3 separate regions of the Homo sapiens genome follow, and all the other regions are reported to be linked to region 2. Evidence: microRNA targets listed by miRTarBase, many of them from high-throughput screens and not tested one by one. Region 2 holds a microRNA gene; each other region holds the end of a gene's coding sequence.

Region 1 (4,182 bases), not on the chromosome of region 2:
CACGCTGGTGCACACAGCCGGCACAGACAGCTGTCACACGCACAGATCACAGGTGCACAGAACGAGTGCTCTTTGTGAGCTGGGGTGTGAGGCCATTCACTTCTCTTTTAAAAGAGATTGATTTATCTAACTTTGCAGAAGTCAAAGAAAAAACATAAAAACATACTAGTTGAAAGAAGAAAGGGAGAGAGAACGGGAGGGAGGGAAATGAATGGGGGGCTTGTGTATCCTGAAATGGTACTTTTTACTTGCAGCTCTGATCAAAGGCCTGTCGTCCCTTCATCGAGGTCCAGGTTTGCCTTTTCCGTGTCTGTGCTGGACCTTGACCTCAAGCCCTACGAGAGCATTCCCCATCAGTATAAACTGGACGGCAAGATCGTCAACTATTATTCAAAGACTGTACGTGCCAAAGACAACGCCGTGATGTCGACTCGGTTCAAGGAAAGCGAAGATTGCACATTAGTTCTCCACAAGGTCTAACTCTTTCCCTGCAGTGTCTTTGAAACTTGAACATAATGTGAAGGCTGAATGATAGAGATATTTTCTGTTGTGTTGGGTGACCTTTGGTTGTGAATGTTTTTGCTTTTAACCCCTTTTGAGGTGGGATTGCCTCTTGGAGACATGGAATTGAAGAGCACTAGAAACAACTTCCTGGACAAGGAATGTAGGAAGTGAGTGCTGTGTCCCAGGAAGCTGCTCACACTCTTAAAATGGAAGTGTCCGTTAAGCCCTGGGAAGACGTTCTGGATAGTTCTTCTTTCCCAACCAGGGCTCATGTCTGATTCTCTAATGCGAAAAGCCTTATTCTAAGACCCAAGGTTTGGATCTGCTACCACCAGACTCCTAACATAGAAAACTTGAATTGTCACATACATTTTACAGTTTGGACTTTTAAGAAAACATGGATACTACTGGAACTTCCCCCAGCTGAGTTACATGGTCACTTTTTCAGTGCAAGCCACATATCAACACAGGTTTTTAGGTGGTTCCCTGCTGCACAGCGTGACCTCGTGGTCGCGCAGATGCCGATTCTGAGCAGTGTAGACTCAGGGTCCCTGTGGAGGTGCTGAAGCCCACAGTTCCACACAGGGCAGCAGGGAGCGCAAGGCTCAGGTCAGGATGGACACCACTCATGCGAGCATTGACCTTTTTTTTTTTGCTTTACAATTTAATCTTTCACATGAGGGGGAGATGAGCTGTTCTTTCCCACTAAAAATTGCTGCTGTAGAAGTTGGAGGTGGAGCTGTGACTGGCTGAGCTGCTGTGGCCGGGCTGGGCAGTGTGCCCCAACAGCTCAGTGCTTTCCTGACACTCCAGTGTCTGGGGTGGTTGAGGAGCGAGTTCTCTCTTCCTCCCAGACCAAGTTCCTCCCTCGGGTTTGCCTTGAGACGTGTTGCGTTTTTGGGCCCCGTGGCCTCTCCCTGTTAGGCTGCCACAGGCCCTGCTTCTGGAAGGTGAACAGCTCCTGGCTGCTGCCGAGAGGGTTCTCGTTGGGGTCACCAAAGTGTGCCCGGCTGCTATGAAAAACGTTGGGAATCTTGGTTTCAGTTTTTTATTCTATGCTAGGTTGTACAGACTTATTTATATCATCGTTTTGAGGGACTAATGGAGGCTTATTGTAACATATAATATTAGTGAAACCATGGAATTATATGAAAATGATACATGAGAAATAAGGAAACTATTTTGCTGATTGTAAATTTTTGTGGGAAATTTTGTGATAACTTGAGAATTATACTTGTTTGAATCAAGGCAACTCTTCTAGAATTTATTGTTCAATTCTGTCATATTTACTTCTAATTCTACTCTCAGAGGTGCAAAAAGATACTTATCTAACTGGACACTTTTACTGTTTTCTTCTCACTTCCAATGACACCGTCTCATACACACGGGTCCTGTGTGCTGGGATGGGGGCTTTGGTGAAGTGCACGGAGCTCACGGACAAGCCGCAGGCTCTGGGAAGCGTGGAGGTAGTGGCCGTTGAGTACTGTCTTGACCCAAGGGAGTTCACTGTTGCTGGGCTGGGGCTGGGGCAGCCTGGTTTGGGATGATTTTGCCCATTGTCACGGTGTGTGGAGGATGCTGGGTCCTGGGTTCAAGTGCACATGTGAGGGAACCCCAGTCCGTGGGAAGGTGGGCTGGGCTCCCTAGGTCCTTCAGGGCTGCAAGAGTTATTGCCTAGCACAGGGCCCAGACAGGGCTGGACTAGACACGATGAAAACAGCCTGTATTTGAGGGAGAAGAGAAAACAGATGGAGACCCCCACTCTGTCTGGTCTTGGCTCCCACCAGCCCGGGCTGTGAGGAGCCCCTGAGCCGCGGGTGCCACTGCTGTGGATGCGTTTCTGGCCCGTCTTGGAAACTGCTGCTGCTGCGTAGTCATGACGGCCCTGACTGGTTTGAGACAACACGCGTTCACAGATCTTAACAATGCTAAATGGGCGACTGATGAGGTCACGGTTCTTAAGGCACATCCGGGACGATCGATATAGCACTTAGGCTATGCAGGGGGGTCTTTCTTTCATAAAGGACCTCATTCCTTGCGTCCCAGCCCAGGAACAGTGCTGTCTTTGCTGTCTTAGGCCATTCTTGTTATTAAGCTGACAGCTTCACTTTCTTGTGGAAGACCAAGAACAGCATGAGGACTTGCTGAGACTGCCTCACGGTGCCACCATGCGGACCGGGGGGAGGCAGGGAGTGAGGGTGTGGCTCCCCTGGGCTACTAAGGACAGTTTAAAGATGAGGCGCCATAGGCATCCGTCTCCAGAGCCCCCAGGAGGCAGGAACCAGGATAAGGGTGGCTTCTCCCAGCTGAGTAATGTGGCCACCATGTCCAAGGTGGACTCGGTGTGAGGCTGCAGTGGGTGGGGGATGGATCCTCCCCACACATCTGAGGACACACAACCACTTGGTACATTTTCTCAGATGTTAAGCTTATTTTTATAAACCACATTGTACGTGTCACTTTTATTTGGCATTTTATACTTAACTAGTTGTATTTATTTTTCATGTCATGAGAGTTTCCATATAATGTGCCATAACTGCATAGACAGCACGTCTTCAGGGTGTGGTTTCTAAGCAGAAAATAGCAAATGTTTATATTGAATAAAATTGCATGTTCCTCCACGCAGCATCTTCATCCTCCACGTTCACTGTTTTGGAACTAGTTGTTCTCCTCTGCACAAAGCGATTTTATCAGGCTTTCCAGAGCAGCTTCGATTCCAAGCAGTCCTACCAGGGTTCGGAAGCTGAGAGGAGCAGTTTCTATGGCTCTGTTCTTGTCCAGCTCCAGGGCTATAAAGAAAACATTAAACCGGGTAAGAAACTTCAAGGTGGCAGCTTTTGGTCTTTTGTTTTCTGCTGGCATGGACCTCACCAAGACCCCGCACTCCTCCCGACTAGCTGCATGGGATGGGACATGCTAGTGGCGGGCGAGGAGATGGAGTGAGTGGAGGCCTCACCTACGGCTGGAGGCATATTCCCTGTGCATTCAGCCTGGGAGGGCCTTGGGGCAGCAATCCCTTTTCATGTTCTTTTTGAGTGATTATTGATAAAAATATTTAAAAATTGATAGACAAAGTACATTAATGAGATTTCCAATTTTTGATTCTTGCCCTTTGAAACCCAGAGGAAACAGGCAGGCGGCTTTGCTGGGCATGTTGAGAAGTCACCTAGAGCAGCCACACCCAGGGCCCTACCTCGCTGTGGGACTTTGGTGAGAAGATCCAGCTTTGGAAAAACCTTCCCATCTTCATCTATTTGTATCCTCCAAACAATGACTAATTCAAACCTGAAAAAGCAGTAAAACATGTCGTTATGTGCTTTTTGAAATCTGGCGAAAAGATTAGCAACCATGAGTCGCACCTGGTCTCCATTTCCCCATGCTGGGCTCCCCTGCTAGAAACCCCAATCCACAGCCAAGAAGAGGCACAGTCAGTAGCACAGGCAAATGGAACCAGGATCACAGGAAGGTGCTGCTCTGTCCCCACTGCATTGGCAAACATTAGTAGGCCAATACCAGCGAAGTACAGAACATGGAGCAACAGAAACTTCAAAATTACTGGTGGGAGCAGACATGGACAAGCCACTTTGGAAATAATCTGGCACTGACAGTAAGCTGAACATGCATCCATGCATGACACAGGAATTTCATTTCTAGGCAGTTGAGCCCAGGAGAAGCTTA
Region 2 (4,209 bases):
GGATCAAACCCAGGACTTTCAAATGGCAGAGCAGATTGCTAGAAGCCTCTGTATTTCCTGTCTGGTGGAGTCACCAGGCCCTGGATCGGCCGCTTTGATTCTCAGCTCGAGCCACTGCGAGGCTCCGTGCGTGGGGAGCGGGGTGGTTATTCATGCTCTGACCCAGGCATCCTGGAGAACCAGGACGGGCGACTGCTTTGAGAACCAGACGGGCGACTTTTCAGAATCTCCCTGCTTTAGAAATTTGACGCAAAATGCATGTAAAATTTGGGCTTTCCCACTTTTTTTTTTTAAAAATGGTCTCATTCTGTCTCCCAGACCGGAGTGCAGTGGCATGATCACAGCTCACTGCAGCCTCGACCTTCTCTGGCTCAGGTGATCCTCCCACCTCAGCCTCCCGAGTAGCTGGGACTATAGGCACATGCGACCATGCCCGGCTAGTTTTTTTTTTTTTTTTTTTTTGAGACAGAGTCTCACTCTGTCACCCAGGCTTGAGTACAATGGCATGATCTCAGCTCACTGCAACCTCTGCCTCCTGGATTCAAGCGATTCTCCTGTCTCAGCCTCCAGAGTAGCTGGGATTACAGGTGCCCACCACCATACTCGGCTAATTTTTTTTTTGTATTTTTAGTAGAGACGGGGTTTCACCATGTTGGCCAGGCTGGTCTCGAACTCCTGACCTCAGGTGATCCGCCCACCTCGGCCTCCCAAAGTGGTGGGATTACAGGCGTAAGCCACTGTGCCCGGCCGCCTGGCTAGTTTTTTGTATTTTTTGTAGAGACGGGGTCTTGCTGTGTTGCCCGGGCTGGTCTTGAACTCCTGGGCTCAAGTGATCCTCTTGCCTGGGCCGCCCAAAGGGCTGGGATCACAGGTGTGAGCCACTGTGCCCGGTCCGGAGAGTCTGTTAAGTGTGGCCTCCTAGTTGATGGGCCTAAGCCAAGCCCTGAGTCCAGGCTGAGGTCTGGCCTGGGAGAGTTGCTTTGGCGTCCTCAGCTCATAGGTGGCCTTTAGCCACCTATGGATCCAGGTGAGCCCACGGATTGGGCTGGGGCACACGTGACAAGGATTGGCCAGGAAGAGGAAGAAGAATGTGGAAGGGAGACCGAGCAGAGGCTGTCAGCAAGGGAGGCACTGGCCGGAGGGAGGGGGTGTTCCGGAAGCAAGAGGCAGAGGTGACGGCAGCCACCGCGGGTGGAGGGGACCTTTGGGCTCATGTGACCTCTGCCAGGTGCTTTTCATGGGTGTACAGGTCTTGACCCCTTTGATATTCTCAACAACCTCTGAGTGTCGACACAGTTGTACCCACTTAATGGATGAAGAAAGTAAGGCCCAGAGAGTGCATGAACTTGCCTAGGTCACATGGCTGCTTGTCTCCGGCCTCCCGAGGTCAGCGTGATTTCATGGTCCCCGATGGCCTCCGGAGTCTGGGACGGAATCCCCGTGGCCAAGGGCCTTCCTCAGGAGCAGGGCCATGGAGAAGGCGCGGAGAGGCCTGCGGGTTCTGTGGGTTTTGTGGGTTTTGTGGGCCAGCCTGAGAGACCGACCCTGCTCATAATGCCATCTCTGTGGACAAACTCCAGCCTGTGCCCAGCAGCCCCTGAGAACCACGTCTGCTCTGAGCTGGGTACTGCCTGTTCAGAACAAATGCCGGTTCCCAGACGCTGCCAGCTGGCCCCGTTCCTCTGGATTCCTGCCTTCTGCGGCAAGGGAGCCCGGACGCTGCAGTGGAAGGAGCAGGTGGCACTCGCTTGCCCGTGGGCAGGAGCTGTGCAGAGGAAACGGCGCTGGGATCCCTGGAGGCTGGCACGATGCTCCGAGGCCGCATCCTGGGGCGGCCGGAGTCTCTTTGGTGGCAGAGCTTGGAATCCCACGCCAGCCACCTGCTGCCACTGGCAGCCCCCACACCGTGACCCCCAGCTTTGTGCTTGCTGGGGCTCCTGGCAGGGAGGGGGTGGTGCAGGAAGGAGTCGCTCTGGCTGGGACTTGGACACACCTCAGTAGTAAGGGGATTACAAATTGGGCAGAAAAGACACCTTCTTTCCCTAGACCAGCTAAGCCCTGCTTGCGGTGGAGGGCGGGGGAGCGTGTCACCCTGAGTCACCCGGGCTGCTGTGAGCGTGACCAGGGCAGCGTCTGGGCAGAAGCGGGCCATCCTTTTCAGAGCCAGGCCCCGGAGCCACCCTAGGGACACCTCGGAGGCCTGGGTGCTGCTCTCACGGCCCGTGCAGTGGGTGGCCAGATGGGAGCCCCCGCACTGTGAGCTCAGCACCTTTCATGCCCACAGAGTCACCAGGAGACCCAGGTGCCCCCTCAGGGAGCAGAATGGGGAGGCTGGATCCTCACTCAAAGGTGAGGCCCGGCGCAGTGGGAGCCTTTTCCTCGTCCCCATCCTCCCTGCAGACGCTGCCGGTCACTCGAGTCAGGTCAGCTCTGCCACCGTCCTGGGTGCCGTGCCCCAGGCGGCGTGCTGTGGGAGCCTAGGAAGCTTTAGACGTGCCAGGCCCGCTGCCTGACCAGTCACTCCCGTGGGCCTGCCACATCCTGAACACCTGTGACAGGTGACTTCCTCCGGGGCGGAAGAATGTGGATGTGGTTATCTCGTGGAAAAAAGGTTTTTTTTCCACGCTCTGCAGACTTGGTTTTTAACCCCAGAGGCTCGGGGCGATCTGGGGCGGGTAGCACGGAGCCGCATCGCCACCTAGTGACCACACGACGGCACCGTCCTTGCCCAACGCCCCGTTTCCATCTCCTGCTGTCTGGAGCCTCCTGCTTTTGCTTTGGAGAGAAATCCAGAGGTGACTTTGCAGCTCAGCAGGTGCGGCGCCTGCACCGTCTTTTTTACCCCTTCCCGTTTCCCACCTTCCGGTCTGCAAAGGGTTGTTTACTTTAGGATTTTTTTAGGGAGAGGTGGTATTTAAAATATACGTAATGAAAACATTTTATTACTATCTTTAAATAAAAACAATCTGAATAGCTTAACAAAACAAATATAGAAAAATAAAGACAATTTGGATGTTTTATTTTATTATTTATTTAATTTTATTTATTTATTTTTTTGTGTGAGACAGAGTCTCGCTCTGTCACCTAGGCTGGAGTGCAGTGGTGTGATCTCAGCTCACTGCATCCTCTGCCTCCAAGCAATTCTCCTGCCTTCGCCTCCCCAGTAGCTGGGATAATGGGCATGCCCCGCCACGCCCAGCTAATTTTTTTTTTTTTTTTTGAGATGGAGTTTCACTCTTGTTGCCCAGGCTGGAGTGCAATGGTGCCATCTTGGCTCACCGCAACCTCTGCCTCCCAGGTAGAAACGATTTTCCTGCCTCAGCCTCCCGAGTAGCTGGGATTACAGGTGTGTGCCACCACGACCAGCTAATTTTGTATTTTTAGTAGAGATGGGGTTTTTCCATGTTGGTCAGGCTGGTCTCAAACTCCCGATTTCAGGTGATCTGCCCTCTTCGGCCTCCCAAAGTGCTGGGATTACAGGCATGAGCCACCGTGCCCGGCCTGCCTGGCTAATTTTTGTATTTTTAGTAGTGACAGGGTTTTGCCATGTTGGCCAGTGTCGAACTCCTGACCTCAGGTGATCCGCCTGCCTCAGCCTCCCAAGGTGCTGGGATTATAGACGTGAGCCACCGCACCTGGCTGAGAATTTCTGCTTAAATCAATTAAAAGAAAATTAACTACCAGGCATGGTGGCTCACGCCTATAATCCTAGCACTTTGGGAGGCTGAGGCAGGAGGATTGCTTGAGCTCAGGAGTTGGAGACCAGCCTGGGCAACATAGTGAGACCCCTGTCTCCACACACACACACGCACGCACGCACGCACGCACACACACACAAAAGTAAATAACCAGTCTCTCATGAGCCACACTTCCTTTATTCTTTTAAAAAAAAAATTTTGGCCAGGTGCAGTGGCCCACGCCTGTAATCCCAGCACTTTGGGAGGCTGAGGCGGGTGGAGCAAGTGGTCAGGAGATTGAGACCATCCTGGCTAACACGGTGAAACCCCATCTCTACTAAAAATACAAAAAATTAGCTGGGTGCGGTGGCAGGCGCCTGTAGTCCCAGCTACTCGGGAGGCTGAGGCAGGAGAATGGCGTGAACCCGGGAGCTTGCAATGAGCTGAGATCACGCCACTGCACTCCAGCCTGGGCAACAGATCGAGACTGTCTTGCTCTGTCATCCAGCTTGGAGTGCAGTGGCACGATCCT
Region 3 (4,209 bases), not on the chromosome of region 2:
CTTAAATAAGATCATCTCTAAGGCTTGAGCTGGAAAAGCTCTGTATACATTCTGCAGTGCATTCCAGTGCTTCCATCCAATTCCCGAAGCAGGAATTATCAAAGTGGCTGGAAGTTGCTTTCTTTGTTTTTGTTTGTTTGTTTTAGAGACAGGGTCTCACTCTGTTGCCCAGGCTGGAGTGCAATGACATGATCATAGCTCATTGCAGACTTGCAATCCTGGGCTCAAGCAATCCACCTGCCTCAGTCTTTGAAGTAGCTGGGACTGCAGGCATGAGTCATCACATCCAGCTAATTTTTGTTTTTAGAGATGAGGTCTTGTAATGTTGCCCAGGCTGAGCTTTCAGGACATGATTATTCTATTCTAACTATACTCAAGCCTGACAGCCCCACTGCCCATCTTCTCATAAGGGGGTGAGTAGTGCATTCCTTTGGAATTCACTTGGGGCTTCCTTGCTCCTCTTGAGCTGATTCTCTGGTGACTCATCCTAGGGTGCAACTTTTGGCCTCCCAGGTGAACAGTTCTGCAAGTCCTCAGTGCACACAGAGCTCTCAGCCCCGAACTTCCCCTCATAGTTCTCTCTCACGACCGCTTCCTCAGCCACCAACACTATTGATCAGCTCTTAGCAATCATCCCCATTTCTCTCCATTAGAGTTCCAATTTATTTCAAAAGAATGGTTTTCCCAGCCTGGCCAATATGGTGAAACCCCATCTCTACTGAAAATACAAAAATTAGCCTGGCATGGTGGCGGATGCCTGTAGTCCCAGCTACTCGGGAGGCTGAGGCAGGAGAATCGCTTGAACTCCAGAGGCGGAAGTTGCAGTGAGCCGAGACGGCACCACTGCACTTCAGCCTGGGCGACAGAGTGAGGCTCTATCTTAAAAAAAAAAAAGAAAAAGAAAAAAAAAAAAGAGAGAATGGTTTTCTCCAAATGGAATTTGTTAACTAGAACTCAATTCATATTGACTATGTGAGTATCTCATGAAAATTATCAAAAGCTGTATACCTTTAACCAAGAGCAGGTCCAAGTTTTGTTGGGCCTGATCTAGGGTGATATGAAATTAGGCACAGGCAGCTAAGCTATGAATACGCAAAGGCATACAGAGTGAAATAATGGGGGAGGGTGGGGCTGAGCACAGTGGCTCACACCTGTAATCCCAGCACTTTGGGAGGCCAAGGTGGGCAGATCATTTGAGGTCAGGAGTTCCAGACCAGCCTGGCCAACATGGCGAAACCCCGTCTCTACTAAAAGTACAAAAATTAGCTGGGCATGGTGGTGCATGCCTGTAATCCCAGCTACTGGGATTATCGAGGCTGAGGCATGATAATTGCTTGAACCTGGGAGACGGAGGTTGCAGTGAGCCAAGATCATGCCACCGCACTCTAGCCTGGGTGACAGAGTGAGACTCCTTCTCAAAAAAAATAAAATAAAGGGGGGGAGGTGTGTGGGGTGAAAAACTACACATTGAGTGTAACATACACTACTCAGGTGATGGGTCCATTGAAGTTTTATAATTCACCACTACATAACTCATTCATGTAACCAAAAACCCCTTCTACTCCAAAAGTCACTGAAATAAAAAATACATTAAAAAAAATCAGGCACAGGGCTATGGAGGGGCCCATGCAAGTGAGGAGCCCTGAGGCTGAAGCTTCATTAGCTTCATGGTCAGTCTGCCTCTGCCCTTACCAGAGGGGCAGAAAAGGAAATTGTTTCCTCTGCAGTGTTGATCTCTCACTTACAAGCAGCAACGTACGAGGGAGAACATGTGTACTGGAGCCAGAAAGGACTGGGTTTAAATACCAGCTGTTTCTTCACTTGCTTTGCGGTCTTGAGGATAACGTTACTTACCCTCACTATGCCTCAATTTCCTTCTCTGAGAAAAAAGAGGTAGCAATGCATATTTCATGTGTGTTTACATGGATTACAAGGGATGGCATGTTTTACACAACACATGTAAAAGTGTTTAATACTATTTGCTATGTAGATGACAGACTTCCATTCAACAGTTTTCACTAGAGTTGATGTATGTGAGTTAAAGCCACCTTCTACAATGGCTAGTTATTAGCTTGCCACATAACAATGGGCAAAGAGTATGCAAGCGTGTATTCAAGGATAGTATAAATATATAAAAACAGGGTGCAAAATAGAACCACATAACCCTAAACCAGTGGCACACAATTATTATTTTATTTTTAGCAGGGACAAGGCCTCCCTCTGTTATCCAGGCTGGAGTGTAGTGTGGCATGATCTTGGCTCACTGCAACCTTCGCCTCCCAGGCTTAAGTGATCCTCACATCTCAGCCACCTGAGTAGCTGGGACTACAGGCATGCACCATCACACCTGGCAAATTTTTGTATTTTTTGTAGAGATGGGATTTCATCATGTTGGCCAGGCTGGTCTTGAACTCTTGGGCTCAACCAGTTTTCCCGCTTCAGCATCCCAAAGTGCTGGGATTACAGGCACAACCACAATTGTTTTTTCTACCTCAATGTACCGGGGGATGCAAACCATTCCAGCTGACAATAGCTTCATACAAGAGCAATAGAAAAGGAGTGTATTAATACAATTTGCAAAGCTCCTGGTATTTTTTGCCTTCTTATGATACACATTTCCTTCCAATCTATAACTCAACTCCTATAGCCCATCCTCAGTCCCAGCTGAGAATCACAGGCTTCACAACAACTAAGGCAAAATACTGAATTTATTCAGTTGATTTGACCAACCACATTGGACAAAAGTATTGGGTTTTATTTGCATAATGTAAAAACATACTTTACATAAGACTACTCACATACTTTACAATGTTACAAATATATATATGTATGAAAGATTCATGAAGGCATTTGATATAAAACATACACAGTATGCTATTTTAATATACAAATGCTTAAAAGAAAATTTAGTCATAAGAATTACAAAATCATCAATAATTTACAAAAGTTTTCATTTTTCTTAAAGGTCACATTCTCATCCTTTGGGATGTACAAAAATTATGTGGTTTACACAGTTTTATCCACATTCAAAACATCACGTTTTGAATGTCTTCAGCATAGCATGTACAGTATAAAATGTTTCCATAGGAACACAAAAGAAACTGTCACTAGTGGCCTGCTGTCAGATGGCTTCTAATTCATCAGTTAGCCATTTTTAGGACACTAGTCCAGCTTATTGCTACAATCTTCAAGTTGTTCTAGTCACCCAAATTATAATGAATTCAATGTATACCAGAATTTACCAATAAAGGCTCAAAGAGTTATATAATATACACCAATATACACAAAACAGCTATTCTGAGTAAAATGAATATTCCATACTTAAATAAGAACCAAGAATAGTAATTTTAGGCTACTCTATTATCCTTGTGATTGGTATTTTTAAAATTTTGAGCAAAGTGCACAGTGAATGAAACAGTCAGCAGACACGATCCTTCTGTGAACTCTCAAATTCCTGCCTTAGAATCACGTCACCTGAGAAATGAGAACCTTGAGACCTGGTGCATATCAAATAGCTTCACATGTCAAACACACAGGGCCGCTTGGAGGCACATTCACGGGTCACAGGAGGTCACACTGCTCCTTCGAAAATGGCACCATTCACTGTACAGGGCCCCTGTGTAGAGGCAGCAGAACCAGCCTCCAGGAGATCAATGCTGTCTTAATTTAGAGCAAACATGGCATCCTTCAGCCATATTCAAGCGTTGGTGGTCCCCGAACAAGATTGAAGTAGCCAGCCAGAGCGCCGAGGTCGATGTAGAGAGAGCGTTGCCTCTTGAGCATCTCAGATTCCTCGGTGCTTCCTGTGCACGAAGAATCTGAAAAGGAAAACATTACAAAGTAAGTAACAAGAAAACGTGTCAAATGATAAATACCTGTTCCTTCTGCAGTGAAATAAATCTTTGGGGCCTAATAAAACAGTGTCTTAAGCGTGAAAGATGGGTCTTTGAACACTATGGCTAAGTTCACATAATATGACATAGAACAAAAAGTTCAAACAGGAGTCAATGGAGACAAGAAATTAGTTAGAAATCCTGGCATATTTTTCCAACAGCCAGATTGCTCTCTTTAAATACACAAAAGTTAGACAAGCAGCAAAGAAATATAAACAAGCGCACCAGGCTTGACATCTCGGTTTGGACCTAAATGGATTAAGAATGCCACAGACTTTTAATAAAAATGGAAATCCCTCTTTATGCATATTCAATG

The links. Region 2 holds the annotated microRNA hsa-miR-589-5p (UGAGAACCACGUCUGCUCUGAG, at 1,599-1,620, shown strand). A microRNA usually pairs through its seed, bases 2 to 8, with sites in the 3' UTR of a target mRNA and lowers its output. Matches are read on the target gene's strand: a 7mer-m8 pairs with bases 2 to 8, a 7mer-A1 pairs with bases 2 to 7 and ends in A, and an 8mer does both.
Region 1: miRTarBase lists IPPK as a target of hsa-miR-589-5p. Seed matches in the 3' UTR shown: 7mer-m8 at 1,483-1,489.
Region 3: the mRNA of MAP3K8 is a reported target of hsa-miR-589-5p. Seed matches in the 3' UTR shown: 8mer at 3,483-3,490.

The regions. Positions count from the first base shown.
Region 1 is chr9:92,612,130-92,616,311 of GRCh38, reverse strand. IPPK (inositol-pentakisphosphate 2-kinase) reads left to right here. Exons shown (of 13, transcript NM_022755.6): 13 at 255-3,129. The coding sequence ends at 480. CENPP (centromere protein P) reads right to left here. Exons shown (of 8, transcript NM_001012267.3): 7 at 3,698-3,789; 8 at 1-3,293. The coding sequence ends at 3,163. Among named protein-coding and RNA genes, the nearest start is that of IPPK, 56 kb to the left of the region's middle.
Region 2 is chr7:5,493,284-5,497,492 of GRCh38, reverse strand. MIR589 (microRNA 589) reads left to right here and starts at 1,576; the gene lies at 1,576-1,674. The region is part of intron 3 of FBXL18 (F-box and leucine rich repeat protein 18); the gene reads left to right. RefSeq lists enhancers at 2,233-2,282, 2,353-2,432.
Region 3 is chr10:30,460,315-30,464,523 of GRCh38, reverse strand. It overlaps MAP3K8 (mitogen-activated protein kinase kinase kinase 8), which reads right to left. Exons shown (of 9, transcript NM_005204.4): 9 at 2,691-3,818. The coding sequence ends at 3,688. Among named protein-coding and RNA genes, the nearest start is that of MAP3K8, 28 kb to the right of the region's middle.